3 linked regions of the Homo sapiens genome follow. The protein of the gene in region 3 interacts with the protein of the main gene of each other region in a biochemical or structural test. Each region holds a gene or a part of one and is shown on either strand. Other genes may lie near its edges.

The links.
Region 1: the proteins of SLC9A4 (region 3) and CHP1 form a complex in vitro, tested with the Homo sapiens proteins (one study listed by BioGRID).
Region 2: the proteins of SLC9A4 (region 3) and CHP2 form a complex in vitro, tested with the Homo sapiens proteins (one study listed by BioGRID).

Annotation. Positions count from the first base shown.
Region 1 is NC_000015.10:41,227,191-41,234,288, reverse strand, and holds the start of CHP1 (calcineurin B homologous protein 1), read right to left. Parts: upstream 3,022-7,098; 5' UTR 2,907-3,021; coding exon 2,840-2,906; intron 1-2,839. UniProt on the Homo sapiens protein: Calcium-binding protein involved in different processes such as regulation of vesicular trafficking, plasma membrane Na(+)/H(+) exchanger and gene transcription. Involved in the constitutive exocytic membrane traffic.
Region 2 is NC_000016.10:23,750,384-23,758,046, forward strand, and holds the start of CHP2 (calcineurin B homologous protein 2), read left to right. Parts: upstream 1-4,642; 5' UTR 4,643-4,666; coding exon 4,667-4,733; intron 4,734-5,277; coding exon 5,278-5,350; intron 5,351-5,463; coding exon 5,464-5,544; intron 5,545-5,679; coding exon 5,680-5,810; intron 5,811-6,004; coding exon 6,005-6,066; intron 6,067-6,817; coding exon 6,818-6,940; intron 6,941-7,146; coding exon 7,147-7,200; 3' UTR 7,201-7,663. UniProt on the Homo sapiens protein: Functions as an integral cofactor in cell pH regulation by controlling plasma membrane-type Na(+)/H(+) exchange activity.
Region 3 is NC_000002.12:102,468,630-102,476,237, forward strand, and holds the start of SLC9A4 (sodium/hydrogen exchanger 4 precursor), read left to right. Parts: upstream 1-4,596; 5' UTR 4,597-5,130; coding exon 5,131-5,386; intron 5,387-7,608. UniProt on the Homo sapiens protein: Electroneutral antiporter that exchanges sodium for protons or ammonium ions at the basolateral membrane of epithelia to regulate cell volume and intracellular pH upon hypertonic conditions.

The sequences.
Region 1 (7,098 bases), on a different chromosome or scaffold from region 3:
ATACCAAATTACTCCTTGAAAAAACAACTCTGGGCTTGGCGCAGTGGCTCACACCTGTAATCCCCGTGCTTTGGGAGGTTGAAGTGGCCTAAGAATCACTTGAGGCCAGGAGTTTATGACCAGCCTCGACAAAATAACAAGACTCCATCTCTACAAAAGATAAAAATAAAAATCAGGTAAGCATGGTGGTATGCGCCTGTAGTCCTAGCTACTTGGGACGCTGAAGCGGGAGGATGGCTTAAGCCCAGGAGTTTAAGGCTTGCAGTGAGCTATGCTCAAGCCACTGCAGTCCGGCCTGGGAGACAGAGCAAAGACCCTGTCTCTAAAATAAAGAAAAAGAAAAAGAAAAAACAACTCTGATGATGGACACTATTTGGATAAACTGATGGTTCCCAGGGCAAAGGAATGACTTTGTAGCAGGCTTAGGGGGAGATCTCTCCTGGAAGTCACCCAAAATGCCCTAGGTTAATCTATCCAAATCTACTCCACCCATGTATCAAGGCCCAATTCCTGTCCTCCATGAGGACAGCCCACAAGGACTCTCTCTCTTGCCTGATTTCTGAAGGTGGATGACACACAATTCTCAGCTTTCTTATGTCATGATGCTAATCATAACTCTCTTGGGCTTATCTCCCCAACCAGGTTGGGGGCGTTTTTTGTCACCATCTGCTCTGAGTACCTAGCACAGTACTGAACAGACACTGTAAAAATTCAGTAAGCACTTGTTTCACTAAGCATTCTGGCTCAATACATACATTTGCACTGGTTGTGGAGAGAATCTCCCTCACAAGTGACTCACTCTTTGGCAATGGGGAAAACAGCTTTTCCATGAGCACTTAGTTGTTTGTCCACAAGCCACATGGTAAAAATATCCCATCCAGGTCATTTCCATTTGGTCAAATGTATATAAACCAGAATGGGATTACTGCTCCCTTCATTCTGAAGCAAAAATGGCTTTTTGCATCTTCACTATGGTTTACACTTTCTCATTATGTGACTCTATATTTATTTCTCTTTGATTCTGCTTATTTCTCCATGTGACTCTTTAACACAAATACTTTAATTCGGTGTCACCCTAGACCTAAAGTAGTACTAATTACAAATGTGGCCAGAAGTTATGGCCACAAAACGTAATAAAATGCTTGTTGAATCCAAACTGCTTGCGTCTCCACTCCGAGGGTCAGAGTAAGTCAGTGGCCAAACAAGTACTGCAAATTATAAAGAGCTAACTACTTTGGGTCATTCAAATCGTGAAAAGGACTGCCTTGGTAGGTGGAGAGGTTACCATCATTAAATGTCTTTACAGAGAGGCTTAAGGGCCATATTTTAGGGGAGGCTGAAAGAAGCAAACCAGTCCAGAAAGGGGTGGGGCTAGAAAACATCCCTTCCAACTTGAAAACTCCAGAAAGTTGAACTTGTCACAAAGCAGAGAACAGCACTTAAACAGGCCTGAAAAATTCTGTAGTTCCCCATAGCACTCCTCAGTACTATCTGCATATGGGCCGGAGTGAGTTACTGGTCATGTCATTATCAAAGACAAGTATGATGAAGAGACAGAGCTCAGGTGCTACATCCTTCATTAACTCAATAAGAATCATAAAGGTTTACTGAAAAGATAAAATATTGTATGCATCAATACAATTGTATCATACATTGCATTATCAAGGACTATTCAAAGTTATGATGGTATTTTACAGCGCTTCAGAATCCCGAGTCCTTTTGCTCCTTTGTTCAGACTAATGAGGAAGAGACTGGACTATAAAAAAAAAAATCAGTTCTGCAGGGCACGGTGGCTCACACCTGTAATCCCAGCACTTTGGGAGGCCGAGGTGGGTGGATCACTTGAGGTCAGGAGTTCGAGGCCAGCCGGGCCAACATAGTGAAACCCCATCTCTACCAAAAATACAAAAATTAGCCAAGCGTGGTGGCAGGCACCTGTACTCCCAGCTACCTGGGAGGCTGAGGCAGGAGAACTGCTTGAACCTGGGAGGCGGAAGTTGCAGTGTGCCGAGATCACGCCACTGCACTCCAGCCTGGTTGACAGAGGGAGACTCCGTTTCAAAAAAAAAAAAAAAAAAAATCAGTTCCTAGTACAAATTCACACGGAGATTTTTGGAGCACATCCAATTTCAATAGCGAATAAAAAAGTACACCAGCATAGTAGAAATCAATACATATATGAGATTAGGACAGCAAGTATCGTCGTGTAAGTAAAAAACTGGTGGTCACAGTATCCGTGTTTTTTCTCTAGAAGTTCAGATTGAAAGAAGTCTCACAATCCCAGACCCCTGATTGTTTAAAGGTCTCCAGGCATCGGGTCATGTCTCCCAAAGCCTTACTACACGGTCTTGCTTTCTGGGTGGTTTTCCCAATTTGTGACAAGAACTTGTTTGTAATTTCCCATAGTTGTCAGAGGTTTTAGGTCCTTACCCAGAAACGGATTTTCTACAGAATCCATCTCGAGTTCCTGAATTTGCTTCTCGGGCTTTACCTACTGTTCAGGATGCCTCTTCATAGGGAAGGGTGGTGCGAGGCAACAGAAAGGAAAGGAGTTCGGGGACTTTGATGGGCAGGGTGCAGAAAAGGGGGGCGTCGACGCTCTACGAGTGATCAAGAGTCCCGATTTTGAAGGGAAGGACAGCCCCACAGTAGCTAGAGCCCCGCTCCAGGAAGCTGCAGCTGGAAGAACAGGTCTTCCAGCTCTCGGTCCCCAAACCTGGAGGCTGCCCAGGACCCCCCAACCTCACAGGCACCCGAGCTCCAGACCTTAGCGACAGCCGCCCTTGGTTGTGAGGCCAGCCTGAGGCGCCCGGCGTTCCCACCCCCAACCCGAACTCACAGCCGGTCTCCTTCTTGATCTCCTCGAGCTCTTCGTCCCGCAGTAACGTGGAGGCCCGAGAACCCATCGCCGTGCCGGGAGCTCCTCCGGGAGCAGCGGCGCCAGAAGAGACGGCGACAGGAGGGAAGGAGGGAGGGAAGGAAGGGCTAGGGGTCAAGAAGGGAGAGGGCAGTGTTTCCACTGCGGACCCGGGAGGGAACCCAGGGGTGGTGCGCTGGGGAGGGCGGCCCCGAGGACCCGCCAATCAGGCGCGAGGCAGCGCCCGGCTCAGGAGCCAACGTCAGCGTTCGAGTTCCAGCCCCGAATGAATCAGCCCAGCTCCAGCCCAAGTCCTGCTGAAGACGGACCCCGCCCCCGGAACCGCAGCTGCCACCGGCCTTAAAGGGGCGATGCCACTCGGTCGCTAACGACGCAATTAAAAGGGCAACGTCATTGACCAACAGTTTTACAACAAACTAACCTGCGACAGGCAGCGTAGTCTACCTTTTCTCACAGGAATCGAACACTAGGAATCCTACTCGATAGGTGGCACGGATTGCGGAGAGAAACTTCGCGTGGGGGGGAACCCTAGGGTGTACCCTTCGGGGACTGCACGCGCTCTTCATCTTTCCTGGCTGCCGTCCTCCTCCCGGCCGCAGGGGGCGCTGGGGAGCCGGCCTCGGGGCCGCGTGCTGATTGGCTCCTCGGGAAACAGACGAGACTGGACGTTGGGCCGGGCGGGCGTCGCCTCTGCGGCGTGTGTCCCCGGCGTCGCGGACCTTTCTCCAGGTTTTCAGCCTGTGATTTGATAACCGCCGCCGGGTGGCGTGGAGCGTCCCGAGACTTCTTCCTTCATTGCAGCCCCTCTTCTTTTAGTTCTAGACTGAAGTTCGAGGAACGCACCACTTGGCTGAAATTAGGATCCAGATTTCCCAAACTTCCTTCGGAGGAAAAAGCCCTAACGATGGAGGACAGTGAATTCCTAGCTTATGGTCCGCCATTTATTTGAAGTTCCTTATTTTGTCTTAAAAATGAGAAATTTTGCATTTTATTCTCATGGTGTATTGTTTGTTTTGATTAAAAAGGTAGGCCTGGCACGGTGGCTCACGCCTGTAATCCCAGCACTTTGGGAGGCCGAGGTGGGCAGAACACCTGAGGTCGTGAGTTCGAGACCAGCCTGACCAATATGGAGAAACCCCATCTCTAATAAAAATACAAAATTATCCGGGTGTGGTGCCGCGTGCCTGTAATCCCAGCTACTCGGGAGGCTGAGGCAGGAGAATCGCTTGAACCCGGGAGGCGGAGGTTGCAGTGAGCCGAGATCGCGGCATTGCTCTCCAGCCTGGGTGACAGAGCAAGACTCCGTCTCAAAAAAAAAAAAAAAAAAAGGTAAAAGCCACCCGTTAAATTAGTGCCTACTCTCAGGTGAACCAGTTCTTACTGCTTCACCTGCCTTACCCCTTCACACCTGTTTGGTTAGAACACGTATAAGATAAGGAAGAACCGAATTCTGACTGCTGTTAGTACCCAAGTACCAGGATATTTTTGTCGTAGCAGGCTTTCCCAGGTCAACTTAAGTTACTAGTTTTAAGTGTTACCTAAGGCTTTACAGCTTAGCCTGAGGCCCCACACGTTCCCTGCAAGCTGAGGTTCTAGTTTGAAGAACTAGAGTTTTGTTTGTTTGTTGTTGTTGTTGTTGTTTGAGACGGAGTTTTTGCTCTTCTGCCCAGGCTGAAGTGCAAAGGCGCCATCTCAGCTCACCGAAACTTCCGCCTCCCGGGTTCAAGCGATTCTCCTGCCTCAGACTCCCTAGTAGCTGGGGTTACAGGCATGCGCCACCGTGTCCAGCTAATTTTGTATTTTTAGTAGAGACAGGGCTTCTCCATGTTGGTCAGGCTGGTCTCGAACTCCGTATCTCAGGTGATCTGCCCGCTTCAGCCTCCCAAAGTGCTGTGATTACAGGCGTGAGCCACCGCACCTGGCTTGTTTTGTTTTTTTGCGACAGAGTCCGGGCTGGAGTGCAATGGCCTGATCACTGTGCATTTTCGGCTCACTGCAACCTCCAGGCGGGTTCAAGGGATTATCATGCCTCAGCCTCCTGAGTAGCTGGGATTACAGGCGCGTGCCACCACGCCCAGCTAATTTTTGTATTTTTAGTAGAGACAGGGTTTCACCATATTGTCTAGGCGGGTCTCAAACTCCAGAACTCAGGTGATCCACCCGCCTCGGCCTCCCAAAGTGTTGGGATTACAGGCGTGAGTCCCCGTGCCCGGCCTTAGAGTTATTTTTATGATTGTCGTGCACTTGTCTAACCTAGTGATGTTGTCCTTTGTACTCAGTAACATTTTGGATATGCCCGTCTAAGAGCTAAATCACTGGAGCTGCTTTGTATGTTGGAATATGGCTGTGATAGGAAAATTTTGTCAGCCCCATGAATGTCCCTTTTCTCAGTCAGCCTTGAAGCCCATCTCTTGATGCTGACCTTACTTTTTTCCTTCCTAATCTTGAATCTTAGTGTTTGCAGCTGTCTCCAGTCAAAGCTTTCTTTGCTTCATGTTAGTATTTTTTTCTGACTTTAATTTTTTTTTCTTTAATGTTTCTCTAATTCTCTTATTTTCCAGGTGTTTCACAAACTTTCCTTTCTTGGGTACCTTTTAAAAGTATAAATTGCTTGAACCCGGGAGGCAGAGGTTGCAGTGAGCCAAGATAGCGGTACTGCACTCCAGCCTGGCGACAGAGTGAGACTCCATCTCAAAAATAAAATAAAAATAATGTTTGCCTCTATTAAGGGCTGTTTTCTTTTTCCAGTTTTATGTATTTTTCTTTAAAAATTCTCCTTTTGCCTGTTGGATTAACTTAAAGAATGGTTTTTCTTAGACTCTCTGATGACTTGTTTTATGTTCTGTTTGGATGCATAAGACTTGGTCTTGCACTAAACTACAAACATCCTACCCTAGAGGCCTGGTCTTAGTTCAGATTGCATTACCTTCTAGCTGTGTGACTTTGGGCAGGTGTCTTAACCTTCTAAACTTCAGTTTCTTCATTTGTAAATTAGGTTATGGTTGTTATATCAAGTAATATTTGTATAAGCACTTGATAGACCTTAAAATGTAAAAATATAGGTTATTTATTTGACCGAAAATTGTATGTAACATCTCACCTTCTTCCTAGTTGACTTAGGCTCTAGTTATTTCATCAATGTTTTTATGGTTAAATTGCAAAATTCACTGGTTGAATTTTCCTAGTGTGGCAAAAGTATACAGCTTTTAAATTTAAAAAACTATAGAAGAATACTTATCTAAGTTTCTAAATACAAGGACATCTAAATAACAGAATAGTTCTAAATTAACTTTTAAAAAATTACTGTATTATGGTAAAGAATGTAAGAGTACCGCCTTCTTTTGTTTTGTTTTGTTTTTTGAGACAGAGTTTCACTCTTGTCTCCCAGGCTGGAGTGCAATGGCGCGATCTTGGCTCACTGCAACCTCCACCTCCTGGGTTCAAGTGATTCTCCTGCCTCAGCCTCCTGAGTAGCTAGGATTACAGGTGTGCGTCACTACAGCTGGCTAATTTTTGTGTTTTTAGTAGAGACGGGGTTTCACCATGTTGGTCAGGCTGGTCTCGAACTCCTGACCTCAGGTGATCTGCCTGTCTTGGCCTCCTAAAGTGCTAGGATTACTGGCATAAGCCACTGCACCCAGTGGTGAGTACCCACTATGAATAATATTTCTTAGTACATTTTTTCTTTACTTTGTACATTTCTATATGGTTGTAATTCTTTTTTTTTTTTTTTTTGAGACAGTGTTGCTCTGTCGCACAGGCTGGAGTACAGTGGCGCGATCTCTAAATCTCGGCTCACTGCAACCTCTGCCTCCCGGGTTCAAGTGATTCTCCTGCCTCAGCCTTCCTGAATAGCTGGGATTACAGGCATACGCCACCACACCCGGCTAATTTTGTATTTTTAGTAAAGACAGGGTTTCTCCATGTTGGTCAGGCTGGTCTGGAACTCCCGACCTCAGATTATCTGCCCACCTCGGCCTCCCAAAGTGGTGGGATTACAGGCATGAGCCACTGCGCCCGGCCAATTTGGCTTTTATTTTAAAATACCTTTAGCGTAGAACTGTCATAGGACAGAAAATAAAAAAATACACAGAAATGGAACATTTCAAGTACCTAGACATAAAAATTAATAGGATAGCATAGACCCAAGTTATGGGAAACTGTCTCTAAAATTCAATTCATTAAACACAAGTTGAAAGAAAAGTTCTTTTCCCAATGTA
Region 2 (7,663 bases), on a different chromosome or scaffold from region 3:
TGAGGTGGGAGGATCATCTTAGCCCAGGAAGTTGAGGCTGTGGTGAGCCATGATCACTCCACTGCACTGCATCCTGGGTGATAGGAGACCCTGTCTTAAGAAAAAAAAGAAAAAATAAGAAACCCTGTACACTTTAGCTATTATCCCTGACTCCCACCTACCTCCCTTAGCCCTCGGCAATCACTAACCTACTTTTTGTCTCTACGGGTTTGCCTATTCTTAACATTTCATGTAAGTGCAATCATATAATACGTGGTCTTTTGTGACTGGTTTATTTTACTTAGCATAGAGTTTTCAAGGTTCATCCATTTTGTGGCATATATAATACTTCATTACTTTTTATGGCCAAATGATATTCCGTTGTATCAATATACCATGTTTTACTTATCCATTCATCAGTCAAACATTTGGCTTATTTCCAATTTTTGGCTGTTATGAATAGTGTCGCTATGAATATTCACTACAGGTTTTTGTTTGAGCTCCTATTTTCTTTCTTTCTTTCTTTCTTTCTTTCTTTCTTTCTTTCTTTCTTTCTTTCTTTCTTTCTTTCTTTCTTTTTTTTTTTTGAGCCGGAGTCTCGTTCTGTTGCCCAGGTTGGAGTGCAGTGGTGCAATCTCGGCTCACTGCAACCTCTGCCTCCCAGGTTCAAGTGGTTCTCCTGCTTCAACCTCCCAAGTAGCTGGGATTACAGATGCGTGCCACCATGCTTGGCTAATTTTTTTGTATTTTTAGTAGAGATGGGGTTTCATTATGTTGGCCAGGCTGGTCTTGAACTCCTGACCTCAAGTGATCTGCCCACCTCTACCTCCCAGAGGGCTGGGATTACAGGTGTGAGCCACTGTGCCTGGCCTGAGCCCCTATTTTCAATTCTTTTGGGTGTATACCTAGGAGCAGAATTGCTGGGTCACATGGTAATTTTGTTTAGTGTATTGAGAAACTTTCAAACTGTTTTCCACAGTAACTGAACCATTTTACTTTTCCATCAGCAATGAATGAGGCTTCCAACTTTTTCATAGCCTCACTAAGACTTGTTTTTGTTTGTTTTAATTCCAGCCATCTTAGTGGGTATGAAGTGATATCTCATTGTGGTTGGTTTGTATTTCCCTGATGACGAATGATGTGGGGAATCTTTTCATGTACTTATTGGCTAAACATATATGTTTTTTTGGAGAAATGTCTATTCAAGTCCTTTGCCCGTTTAAAAAGTTGGGTCATTTATCTTTTTATTATTGAGTGCTAATTGTTCTGTATTTTCCTGACTATTCCTGGATGTTCATTCTTCTAGTTGAACCTTCACCAAGAATGACTAGCGGCCAGGCGTGGTGGCTCATGCCTGTAATCCCATCACTTTGGGAGGCCGAAGTGGGCAGATCACTTGAGGTCAGGAGTTCGAGACCAGCCTGGCCAACATGGTGAAACCCCATCTCTACTAAAAATACAAAAATTAGCCAGGTGTGGTGGTGCATGCCTGTAATCCCAGCTACTAGGGAGGCTGAGGCAGGAGAATTGCTTAAGCCCAGGAGGCAGAGGTTGCAGTGATCTGAGATGGCGCCACTGCACTCCAGCCTGGGCAACAGAGTAAGACTCTGTCTCAAAAAATTAAATAAGAAAAAAAAAAAAAGAATGACTAGCAACTTTTACATAGCTGAAAAGCAAAAACCAAATATTCCTCCTGACTCTAGTCTAACAGATTCTGCAGATAAAATTTTCCCCAAAGCATCTTCCCGCTTAAATGACCTGAAAAAACTGTGAAGTTGATTTAAGTCTCACTTGTGTACATGAAACAGAAATGAGTTCTAGCATAGCCTGCTCTCTCTCTCTTTCTTTTTTTTTCTTTTTGAGATGGAGTCTTGCTCTGTTACCCAGGCTGGAGTGCAGTGGTGTGATCTTGGCTCACTGCCACACCTGCCTCCCAGGTTCAAGTGATTCTCCTGCCTCAGCCTCCCAAATAGTTGGGATTACAGGCGCCTGCCACCACACCCAGCTAATTTTTTGTATTTTTAGTAGAGACGGGGTTTCACTGTGTTAGCCAGGATAGTCTCAATCTCCTGACCTCATGGTCTGCCCGCCTCAGTCTCCCAAAGGGCTGGCATTATAGGTGTGAGCCACTGTGCCTGGTCCAGCCCTCTCTTAAAAGCTTGTGTATGATGTGTGCATGGGAGTTCCTAATTACTCTCCGGCCTAATTTACTTTGGTGTAGCACTGACTCCAATATTAAGGCTGGAGAAGCCCTTTCCAAGATCAGCATCCCAAGCTGGCCTGCGGTGCTTATCACAGCTTCTTAGGGCTCTCATCTCCTCCTGGGTTCAGAACTGAACCCAAACTACATGCACAGCCTGACTCACAGCTGTGGGTTGCAGTGATTGCTGGGCTTCATTAGGGAGGAGTGTGGTTTCCCGCATGCTTAGTCTTTGGGGGGAGTCTGAAAGAGAATCAAGCATTCCTTATGCCAGTTGCTTAATCCTTGGGGGTATCTGAAAGAAGCAAGCACTTCTTAGATCAATATTTTCAAGACTTATCTGATGCAGGCCTCTGCCTGGGGCTGGAGGATAGACTGTTTCTTCAGCTTCTCTCTCTCCAGGGTGGATATGAACTTGAGCCCTTGCAATGAACTGCTTGCATGTTTTCCCCCCTGGGAAATTTGTGTATGTATGTGCAATTATGATGGGGGAAACGGTTTAAAGATACTTTCAAAAGTGGACACTTCTAGTGTTTGTCCCTTGACAAATGAGTTTCTCGACCTGTTTTTTTTTCATTATCAACGCCTCCCCTAGTCTTTTTAATTTCCCCACCCTCACCCCTACCCCATGAAATTTTATTTTCTTTCTTTTTTTTTTTTTGAGACCAAGTTTCGATCTTTTTGCCCAAGATGGTGTGCAATGGCGCGATCTAGGCTCACCTCAATCTCCACCTCCCGGGTTCAAGCGATTCTCCTGCCTCAGCCTCCCGAGTAGCTGGAATTACAGGCATGCACCACCACGCCCAGCTAATTTTGTATTTTTAGTAGAGACTGGGTTTCTCCATGTTGGTCAGTCTGGTCTCAAACTCCTGACCTCAGGTGATCCGCCCGTCTCGACCTCCCAAAGTGCTGGGATTACAGGCATAAGCCACCGCGCCCGGCCTCTTTTCTTTTCAAGACAGGGTCTCACTCTGTCACCCAGGCTGGAGTGTAATGGCGTGATCATGGCTCCCTGCAGCCTCAACCTCCTGGGCTCAAGTGATCCTCCTGTCTCAGACTCCCAAGTAGCTGAGACTACAGGCATGTGCCACGACACCTGGTTAATTTTTTTTTTTTGTATTCTTTTGTAGAGATGGGGTCTCACTATGTTGCCTAGGCTGGTCTTGAGCTCCTGGGCTCAAGCAATCCTCCTGCCTCTACCTCCCAAAGTGCTGGGATTACAGGCATGAGCCTCCACGTCTGCCCTGAAATTTCAATATCACAGCTATACTGTATATCTATTTATGTGCTGTATGTATGCTGTGCTTTGTACATAAAAAATATGTTTTATTTTTTGCCCCGTTGGGGTGAGATAGAGACCGCACTGAGAATGCACGCTTTACATAATTAGTTCACAACTTGCCCCCGGCAGCCTCCACCACGTAAAATTAGAAGAAAGCAGCCCAGCAGGGCCTACAAGGAATGTGTGAACGGATGCACGTAAAGTGCTTAGCAAAGCGTGGTAAACAAGAGCCCTTGTTGTCATTCTTGCTTTAAGCCTAGTCCCAGTGATGTCTGTAACCCTCTCTTGGGCCAAGGAGTCCCATGGCTCTGGAGGGCTGTTCAGAGGACTAAGTCATTCCCAGTCTGGAGCTCTACGGGATCAGTAGGTACCTAAGGGAGTGAATTGGGCTTGGAGGGACTGTGGCCAGAAGACAGCTCTGGGCCTGGTGGTGATAGAACTTCTGATTTCTCAGGAAAAGCCAAGAATGTGGATTTTGGGTTAAATCTCCTGAATTTTAAGCATTGGCTCAATTAAACAACAATAAGGCAATGTGAACCGAACAAAAGGGATGAAACCAAGATTTACTGACTTTCCCAGAGTCACGGGCACGGCTGGGATTCCAACAAGGACTCCCAAACCAGTGCTCTTTCCACTTAACCTAACGCACACCCTTCATCTCGCCGCCCCTCCCCACTTCCCCGTCTTTGGGAGTTCTTCGATGCCTCTTCCCCCCTCCCCCCAGGATTCCCTCCCCATAGGCCACCCGCCTTCCAGCAGGGCGTGGTCTCTACAGAGGAGGTCAGGTCTCCCAGGCTTCCTCAGCGTCGACGCCGGGGAGCGCCCTGGGGTTGGGAGCGCCCGGGGCCCGCGAAGGAGGAGGTGGCTCAGGTGTCAGGGCGCACCGTGGGAACCGGCCCCGGGGGAGGCGTGGAAACGCGGGGCCTGGGACTCGACCAGCCTCTCCCGTGCGGATCGCAAAATCTCGGAGCTGAAACAGCCCGTTGTTCGCAGCCTCCCTCTGACCCGCCACCCTGCACATTGTTTTCCATTCGCCCGGGTCGCGGGTGGGAGGAGAGGCACGCCGGGGTTCTGGAGCTTGGCCGCGCGCCAGGCTTGTGGCCTTCGTCCCCCTGGGGCCACTGGGGCGGCCACGCCTCTCCGGCGGGAGGAGAGAACGCGTGGGTCCGGGTGGCTGCTCCGGCCCTTCCGCCTCCAGCTCGGCCATGGGGTCGCGCAGCTCCCACGCCGCGGTCATTCCCGACGGGGACAGTATTCGGCGAGAGACCGGCTGTGAGTGCGCCCGCGTCGGCGGCTGCGGAGGGGACGGGGCGAACCCAGGCGTCTGGGGCTAGGGAAGGGGTTGGGTTGAAGGATGGACGAACTTACAAGTCTGGGGTCCGGGGCTCCCCGGAGCTGGAAGACCAAGGCCCCTGTGCCTGGGATCGCTGGGTTAGGGGCGGGTTAACCTAGGGGTCCCAGCCTCCAAGTCTGGGGAGGATCCGGGTTCACGGGGTCGGAGTCCAGAGGAATCCAGGCACCCAGGTGTCCTCCAGCCCGGCTCGAAGCTGAAGGCAGAGCTGACGGCGGTTGGAAGGGATGGCTTTGGTTCTTTGGTTTTCGGGAGGTTGCGAGCCGCCCGGGTCTTGAACCTGGATCTTCGCGGGGTCGTGTCACTCTCCCTCCGCCCCGGCCAGCTCAACCCCTGATTCCCCGGGATGATCGCCCCTTCCAGCCAGCCCCCGCTGTTCTGGCCCATCTTCCTGGCCTGTTGGGGCGGGTTTCTGGAGCTGGCCCTGCAGAGTCACACACCCCCACCCCACTCTCCTTCCCGCAGTCTCCCAAGCCAGCCTGCTCCGCCTGCACCACCGGTTCCGGGCACTGGACAGGAATAAGAAGGGCTACCTGAGGTGAGGGGGAGCCGGCCTCATAACTTCTGGCCTCTGTCTCTCTGACTCCATGTCCCTCTTTGACCCTCCGTCTGGCATCTCTGCCTTACCCTCTTTGAAATTTGGCTTTGCAGCCGCATGGATCTCCAGCAGATAGGGGCGCTCGCCGTGAACCCCCTGGGAGACCGAATTATAGAAAGCTTCTTCCCCGATGGGTGAGGCTTGCTGGGCGTGGGGAGGTGAAGGCGGGAAAACCGGTGTGTGAGTGGGTGGGAGGGGAGGTTAGAGACGGAGGCAAAGTGATGGCCAAGGTGACCACCACCTCTTTCCATTCTGTCCCGTCTCCCCAGGAGCCAGCGAGTGGATTTCCCAGGCTTTGTCAGGGTCTTGGCTCATTTTCGCCCTGTAGAAGATGAGGACACAGAAACCCAAGACCCCAAGAAACCTGAACCTCTCAACAGCAGAAGGAACAAACTTCACTGTGAGTTTGTGAGGACCTGCACAAGTGAGAATGCAGATGTACCCACACCAGGGACAGGCTCCAGGGATCTCCCACTCCCTTCCTGAGGGCATTGACAACCTCCCCCCTCCTCCAAGGTGGGGGGAAGGAAGGTGGCTGCTGGAAGAGAGCCAGGGAAGACCTACCTTCCTTTCCCCCTCCCACCCTCTCCCCAGATGCATTTCAGCTCTATGACCTGGATCGCGATGGGAAGATCTCCAGGCATGAGATGCTGCAGGTTGGCAGAAAGCGAGAGCAAGAGATGTGATGTGTGAAGGATGGGATGGTTAAATGCAATGGTGTGAGAGATGGGGTGGGATGATTGGGGAACTGGGGCGCAGATAATTGGGGTATTGGTTGGGAAATGGGAATGGGTGCAGTTAGAGTGTGGGTTTGTTGGGAGTCGGAGTGGGGAGCAGTTGACTATGAGGTTGGGAATAGATCAGTGATTCTCAACTGGGGGTGATTTTGCTCCCTGAGTGAATATCTGGCAATATCTGGAGATGCTTTTTGTTGTCACAATGGGGGAGAGAGTGTGCTACTGGCATCTAGTGGGTAGAGGTCAGGAATGTGGCTATATATCATGCAATACCCAGGAGAGCCTCTTCCAACAAGGAGTTACCTGGCTCCAAATGTCAACAGTGCCAAGATTGAGAAACTCTGGAACAGATGTGATGGAATGAGGATGGAATTAGAAACCCTTAGTGGCTAAGGTGGAGAATGGTGTGGAGGATGGATGGAGGTTGGGTGATAAAGTTGGGTAATGAGTTTGAGCATATTTTGAGGGTAGTGCAGGATGGTGAGGGAGAGATAGGAGATTGGTTGTTGAAGCAGTAGGGAAAATTATTGGGGGATATGGTGAAAAATGGATGAAGGATGGATTATAAAATTAGCAATAACTTTTGGGATGAGGTGGGCAAGGTTTAGGAGATGGGGAGTTGCAGCCTTCGTGCCCCCTCCTTATGGCTGCCTCTTCACTCATCTCTCAGGTTCTCCGTCTGATGGTTGGGGTACAGGTGACAGAAGAGCAGCTGGAGAACATCGCTGACCGCACGGTGCAGGAGGCTGATGAAGATGGGGATGGGGCTGTGTCCTTCGTGGAGTTCACCAAGGTCAGAGTGCCCTTGGGGATTGGGGAGTTGAGATCAGGAGTTCTGGGGCAGACAGACTTGGGAAACGTTCAACGGAGGAGGGCGGAAAGATAGGGGTTGCCTGGGAATGATGGGGTCTCTGGAATGGGTAGAACCCTGGGGGAGGAGGTTGGGAGCATGGAGAGCTGAGAGTCAAGCCTCTTGCCTGCCATTTGTTTTTCCCTCAGTCCTTAGAGAAGATGGACGTTGAGCAAAAAATGAGCATCCGGATCCTGAAGTGACTCCGTTTGTGCCTTGGGCTTGCTCCTGCAACCAGTATCTCCTTGGAATTCATCCAAAGCCCCCATGGACGCATGGACGCAGGGCGACAATAAACTGTATTTTCGTTTCTAACTCTATTTAGGGCCAAGAGAAGAAAGCTGGAAGGATGTGTACTAAAGTCTAGCTCAGCAGTCCCCAACCTTTTTGGCATCAGGGACAGTTTTTCCACGGATGGGTGACAGGGGATGGTTTTGGGATGATTCAAGTGCATTACATTTATTGTGCACTTTATTTCTATTATGATTACATTGTAATATATAATGAAATAATTATACAACTCACCATAATGTAGAATCAGCAGGAGCCCTGAGCTTGTTTTCCTGCAATTAGACGGTCCCATATGGGAGTGATGGGAGACAGTGACAGATCATCAGGCATTAGATTCTCATAAGGAGTGCACAATCTAGATCCTTTGGTGTGCAG
Region 3 (7,608 bases):
CACCCTCAATTAGTCCCATGAGGGAAGACAGGATATAGCAATCTAAATTATAAGGCACCCACTGGGGAGAGGATGTCTGGCCATTCCTTTCCTGCCACTGGGCTCTATGTGTGAGCGGGTTTCTATGAACAGATGACAAGAACCACAGGGATTCTTGGGACTGGCACCAAAAAGGGGTCAGGAAGGCAGGTCAGAGAAGGTCAAGTTTCTACAACCAATATAGTTATCTGAATAATTAGATCAAAACTGTCAGGTATCCAATAGCTTGCTGCGGACCTAAAATTCCAGGATGATTCTTTTAACTCTCTGCTTTGCAAATGAAAACTGTTTATATTTTCCCTTCACCATCACAAGTATAAACAGGAAAGCGCACAGCACCCTGCGATACTCTGGTGCACCTGTGAATGGATCTTTTCTGAGAAATTAAGTTAACTGATAATTATTATTTGGATCATATTTCCATTTATTTAGATCTTCTTTAAACAATTTTTTTTAGAATACAAGTGTGACACTTTTTTGATAAACTTATTCCTAAGAATTGCATTTTTTGATGCTATTATAAATGGCATTATTTTCTTAATTCCATTTTGTTTTATTCATTGTCACTATAAAACACAATTTGTTTTTGCATATTGATCTCATATCCTACAAGCTTGTTAAACTCATTTATTATATCTAATAGTTTTTTAGTCAATTATTCAGGATATTCTGTTTAAATATTTTAGAGTAATCTATTTAAAAGATCATGCAAGTGGAAATAGTTTGACTTTTTTTCCTTCCAATCTGAATGCCTTTTGTTTCTTTTCATTGTCTAAATGCCCTGACTAAAAGCAGCTCTAGTAGAATATTGAATGGAAGTGGCAAGAGTGTATCTCTTTGTCTTGTTCCTGTTCTTTCAGGGAAATGTATTTAGTCTTTTCCCTTTAAGTATGATGTTGGCTGTGTATTATCATGTTGAAGAAGTTTCCTTCCATTCCTGACCTGTAGAGTGTTTTTAAAATAAAAGGTTGTTGATTTTGTCAAATGCTTTTCTCAGTCTGTTGAAATGGTCATGTGGTTTTGCCTTAATTCTATTGACATGTATGTTATATGAAATAATTTTTAAATATTAAACCAACCTTGCCTTCCTGAGATAAATCCCACTTTGTATAAATAAGTTTGAATTGTTACATCTTCTTGATAGATTGACACTTTTCTTTTTCTTAAATGTCCCTCTTTATCTCTAGTAACATTTGTTATTTTAAAGCATATTTCGTCAGTGTAAAGCCACTCAAGTTCTCTTAGCATAGTGTTTGTGTAATATATCTTTTCTCATTTTTTTTTTTTTTACTTTCAACCTACTGGTATCTTTGAAACTAAAATGTGACTTCTGTAGACAGTATGTAGTCCATAATTTTTTTCTGCCTAAAAACTGGATATTTTAGATGATTTCTTGTAGCAATTCTTGATGCTGCTTTCTCCCCCTCCCCCAACTCCAGGGCTTGTTGTTGCTTAATTGTTTGCTGTTTGTTTAGTGACTTGGCTGGACTATATCAGCAAAGTCTATTTCCCTGTGCAGCTTTTTATACTGATCCTCAGCCAGTGAAGCCTGGGGCATGGTTATAATACCCCTAAGCCCTTTCTCCCTTCCCCCAGAATAACAATGGTTTTAGCAGGCTTCTCTGACTTTCTTTCACTGATATATTAAGCTTCTAGCTGGTCTGTTGTATCTATTGACATCACACTCAACTGTTAGCCTCCAGTAACTGCTGGCTGAAATGGCCTATTGTTTTCAACAATGCCTTGGGTTATAAATTACTCCACAGTCCGATCCAATTAAAGTCAGGCTCCTTTGCAGGGTAATCTTTGAGACCAGTCTCTGAGACATGTTATAGCCTCAGGAGAGCTCTTTTCAGCCATCTCTTTTTCTGGTTCTTCTGTTAAACTTCTAGTTGGTCTACTCTTTAACTTATTGCAATCATGGAGCTACTAGCTTTTCTTCCTTGCTCACAACCTAAATCTTCATTGTTTTTGACAGTGCCCTTAGGCTTGAACATCTCTATATTTTGTTCCAAATAAAGTTAGCATACTTAGAGTTAGTTATAGAGTTCTCTGTTCTATAGCCTGTCTCCTCTCCTTGGCAGAAACTCTGTTCCACTACTCTGGAGATGGGGATAGAGATAGTAACCTACTTCTCTTGGAGTGATACCCCTGGTGTGTGAGTGGGATGCTGGACTGGGGTAGTAGCCACTGGTCATCTTGGTTTATTTCCAGTGTTGTGAAAACTCAGTCTTATGAGTAAGTTGAGAGTTATCGGGGTCCAGTATTCCTAATTTGCTGTTTCTGGGGTAGATTCAGTTACATTTGCCTGCAATAGAGTCTGTTCAACATATTGCTAGGATTGGGGTAGGGCAGAGTTTGGTTACGTATGCTGACAACCTGACTTTTCTGGGTAGAAACTGTAGTCATAAACTGGGATCTGGGATTAGAGGCAGCCCCATCCTCGTGGCTACATTCATCCAGAATAGAGTTTTTCTCACATTGAGCTGAGGGGTGGGTAGAGAAAACAGGCCGTGCCTTCAGGTCTTACCAATATTTAGAAGATTTTTTTCAATTTCTGTCTGCTCTTAGGACAATTTCCAGAGACTGGATGGTTGTTTTTGATTTTTAATGATCTCACCAGTTATAGTTGTTTCACTAGGAAATCTATGGTGCTTCTTATGCTGTCATTCTAGAAGAGCTTCTCCTTTCTTCCCCCTTTCCCCTCACTTTTGCTGCCCTTAGTTTGCACTTCTCATGGAAGCTTTGTCTCACATACACTTTCTGGGGACCTTATACTAAGAAATCATTTTAGAAAGAATGTTCTGACATCTGTAAGAAAGTACTGCATGAGTGGAAGTGATGCCGATGGTTGATGAAGTGGGCTGCTACATCTTAACCTGGACCACAAGTTAGTAGACTGTTGCAGAGCTCAAGTTGTTCTCTTACCATCCTCCCAAGATTGGCATTTTTACTCTGAGAGGGACTGGACTATCAGCCATCAGGTGATCATAAGGCTAAACGGGTTGCCATATACTCACAAAATTTGGAATTTTAGAGCAGGAAAGGGTTACCAGGTATGGACAGCATCTTTATTTTATAGATGAGAAAACTATAAAGGCTCAAACTATAAGGCTCAAACAGGTAATTTTCCAAAGCCAATCAGATAACTAATGTCTGAGTACATAAGTCTTTTGATTCTTCATTTTGGTCTTTCCACAAGGCACTATGTGAGACTTGCTCCCTCATTTCTTTTTAGAAAGAAAAGTACAATAAAATGCAAATAAAAATAAAACACCTATTATAAAGCAGCTTTCTATTAAAGGATATTCATATATTCTTTGAGAAAAAATAATCGACTCAATATGTGTACCCTTCTTGTAGTCCACCTGATAGTCTCATTTCAGTGACTGAATCTAATCTATTCTGGAGTCAAACTGAAGGAAAAAGAAAAAATATTCATATGTGAACTTTTAATTCTATTGCCTCACTATGAATTTGCATCTAGGTGTTAGCCCTTCTCAACCATTCCTTTCTCAATTTCCCAGTGATGTTAGCTGAGTGTGTGTGTGTGTGTGTGTGTGTGTGTGTGTGTGTGTGTGTGTGTGTTGGCTGGGGGGAAATCCCCTGCACTCACTAATATGAACTAAGAAAAAACAAAACACAAAGCATCTTGCAGTTTGATGTAAAAGAGATGTTGGGGTAGTATATGGATGATGTATTATTCTCATTTTTTACTGAGTATCAGTAATCATTGCAAAAGTGTTGTATCTTATCCTAAAAGTATAAGAAATGTAATTTAAAATAAAAACTAACATTTAAGTGCCAACTACATGCCAAATTCTTTACTTGCTTTATCTCATTTAATGTTCCTAGCTACTCAATGAGGCAGATATTTTCCTCTCTGTTTCAGATAAGGAATTTCTGAAAGGTAATTAACTTCACCAAGGTCACCTGGCAACAAGTAGAAGAGCGAGAAGTAGGCTCATAAAAATTATCTCAAAATTCTTTCATCAACATTCTATGATGCTGCTTCTTTTTAACAACAACAAATGTTTTTTAAATGGAAAATCTGGATGTGCCATGGAGTTTTACAAATCCAGGTATTTAGGTGTATTTATGGAACTTGTTCTTTGGCTTCCTGTTTTTTAAAAATTATAGTGTAAAGTTCATAGAGATCTGGAACTTCATTCCTTCTATGAATGACTGCTCATGGAGTCTGGTAACATGCAAAAGTTTCAGTGTTTGCTACCATCCTTGTTGTTACCACCTCCTTCTTATCCTCCTTCTTCCTCATGTATAGAGACCATATAAGACAGTTTGCTGGACAATTCTGGTTTGTGCCTATAGCTTTGCATAATTATCATTATTATTCATTCCCCAAAGTGTCCTGGTTTAGATAATTTCATGGTCACCTTAACGTTCATAACTGAAAGTGTCAAGGGTGTTGTATTGCAGGTGCCCACTAGGTGTCAGCAGTGTGACCTCCAGAGAACCCTCAGAGAAAGGATTTCATTACAAAAGTCAAATCAAAGCAAATAATTAAGTGTAGTTCCAGAGCTACCTGAAGCCGTGGTCATTCAAAACAAATGAGAGGACAGGGGGAGGAGAGAAGGAACAAGCGCAGATCAGGTAGCTCCTTCTTGGGATCTGATAGACAGGGAAGGTTTCCTTTCCTCATTAGAAGGACTCCAGTGATCTGTGGAATGAGCACTACAGTATCCTTTTAAATTTTCACCCACAAGACAAAGCCAGTATGCAGTGAAATGAGGAAATGCCTTTAAGTGAAGAGATTTTTATTTCTTTCATAAATTGCTCAAGCCATGATTGGATGGAGGTCCTCCAGGTAGCTCCATGGACTTTAACAAGTCTATTGAATAACTGCATTTGAGTTGGAAGCTGAGTTGCCTGAACACAAACGATTTAAACCAGATTAGAAAGTGTCTACATACAGAGCTCAATAACACACTCGGAATCTTCTTGGGAGGACCCACAGACTGTACCTATATTACTTTTGACCCAGGTGGATGCAGTCACTCTCTAGAAGCCTCCCCGACTTCAGATGTGTGGCACACATCCACACAGGGGTGTAGGTAGGAGAAGCCCACAGGAATGGCTCTGCAGATGTTCGTGACTTACAGTCCTTGGAATTGTTTGCTACTGCTAGTGGCTCTTGAGTGTTCTGAAGCATCTTCTGATTTGAATGAATCTGCAAATTCCACTGCTCAGTATGCATCTAACGCTTGGTTTGCTGCTGCCAGCTCAGAGCCAGAGGAAGGGATATCTGTTTTTGAACTGGATTATGACTATGTGCAAATTCCTTATGAGGTCACTCTCTGGATACTTCTAGCATCCCTTGCAAAAATAGGTAAGTCCTTAAACACCTGGTTTGGTGAGTTATCTTTTTACATAAGATAGTGAATGTGAAAATGCCTTATAGATAACGGGCTAAGAGGATTTTAACTGTTACTGCTATTACATTAAAAATTCTCTTCCCTTCAGTCAAGGGAAAGTCATAACTGCATTTTACTAAGCTATTTAATACTTTGAGATTGCTCTTTGAAATTTGAGAGCATACTTCTGGGTACTGGGCTGTGTTGGTTTCTTCTCATTTCAGGGTGACAACCATGTGACATTGTTGACATGCAAAACTCTCAAATTCTATGCTTTAAAAATATAGAGAATAAAGCACGTAGACCTGGGCATGATGCAAGGTGGAAATTTCAGGAAACACATAATGTTTCTTCTGTAAAATATTCTTGGCTGTGTAATTGTGGGCTTCATCAATCACCCCATTGTTTATTCTTTAAAAGTAGCGTGTGCTTCTTGCAAATTGACAGAAAGCAAAAAACAAGAAAACCATAGGCAACTTGTATTACTCAGTGATGGGATGTCGGGGCATATAAGATTATATCTGTCAGTAAAATATTAGTTTATACCTACCAAGTGGGGCCAGTGAGGCACCTCTAATTTCCTTTGTGAAATAAAGTGAATCCAAGTTAATAGATTAAATTCCAATCAAGGGATCTTTGTGTCAAAAACCAAAGAGGTGGCTATACTCTGTGACTGTTTAATCCCTAACTGCTCCTCCTTATCTCTTTAAAACCAGCTTATTCTAAAGTGGAAAATTAATATAATTATCTCAAATGCTAAGCACAATGCCTCCTTTGCCTCAGCTATAAACTTTATGCTATTTGAGTATGTAGATTGCCTTATTGAGATAGAATCAATGAAACATTTTAATTCTCATTTATTTATATGTGTATGTTTTCTCTAGGATGGGTGTGTAATGTGGGTTGAGCCTTGAGGTCTGGCAGTTACCTTCTGTGTGCTCTGGCTATTCACTTAGCTCCCTCCCTGTGGGTGTGGGGACACTGGTATAGGTGTCCCCTTTAGACTCTCCTTTATAGTTGCTATTCATTTTGAGCTAGTAAAGTGTGAATATTAAATAGGAATGTTAGTTTGAAGAAGTCTTGTGCAATTTGCTTAGTGAATAAGTTACACAAAGGATCTTACTATATTTTTAAGAGGTATACAAGTAAAAATGGCTTTCCAAATGGATAACATTCTCAGTTCAGAACAGTCTAACATCTTTTGTGAAATCATATAGACACTGATTGTGTTCAAGGTGATCTTACTTGGTACTTGAGTTTTCCTTTTAAAACAATATGCTAGAGATTCTGTGTTCCCTGCTCCCCATTCCACAACCTGGCTTCCTCTTCACAGAAATGGCTCAAGTCAATCTGAGTACCAGGAAACTCGTCCTGTCACTGACTAGCTAGTTGCTCTGTTTATCAGTAAACATCTAAACGCAGAAAGGCTGCATTTTGTCTTGGTTTTATATTTGTGTAAAACCTAGCTTGTTTTGTAGAGGCATTGTATGCACCCAGATTCATTCTGTCTAGGAGCGAAGAACACTGTGAAAATACGATTATTCATAGAACTGTTGGTTTAAATGTTCTTGATTTTCATGATGTAATTTAACATACTTTAGAAAAAAAGAGTAGGATATCAGAACACGCTTATTCGAGTACAATTTCATATTTACTAGTCTTCAAGAATTTAGATTATTTTTATATTCCATATGGACATGAGGAGTGAGGAGATAAAAAGGCCATATTTATTGAATATATACTATGTGCCAATTACTGGGCTGGTAGTTTTATGTATAAGGGCTTGTTTACTAGGGCCAAAATAATAATGATGATGATGATTTATAATTTCAGCACTTAAGAAATGCATATGAGTTTTTAAAGATTATGTTATAAAACATGAATCAGAATAAAATTAATAATCATTATTATGATTCATTCTTTTATTCCTCATTCCATCAAGGTACATTTTCTGAGAACCCATGAAATATGTGGAAATGACCATGGTCCCTGACCTCAAGGGACTTGGTCTAACGGGGAAGATAGGTTAACTTAGTACTTATTGCCCATAGATACTCTGACAGAAAAACATCAAAACTCTCCCCCAATCCTTTTTAAAACACCCAACTATATGCACTTATAAAACAAAGATAATGTATAACAAAGATAATACAAAGCCACCTCAGACTTTGTGGTTTATCTTCTACTTCAGTTCCAC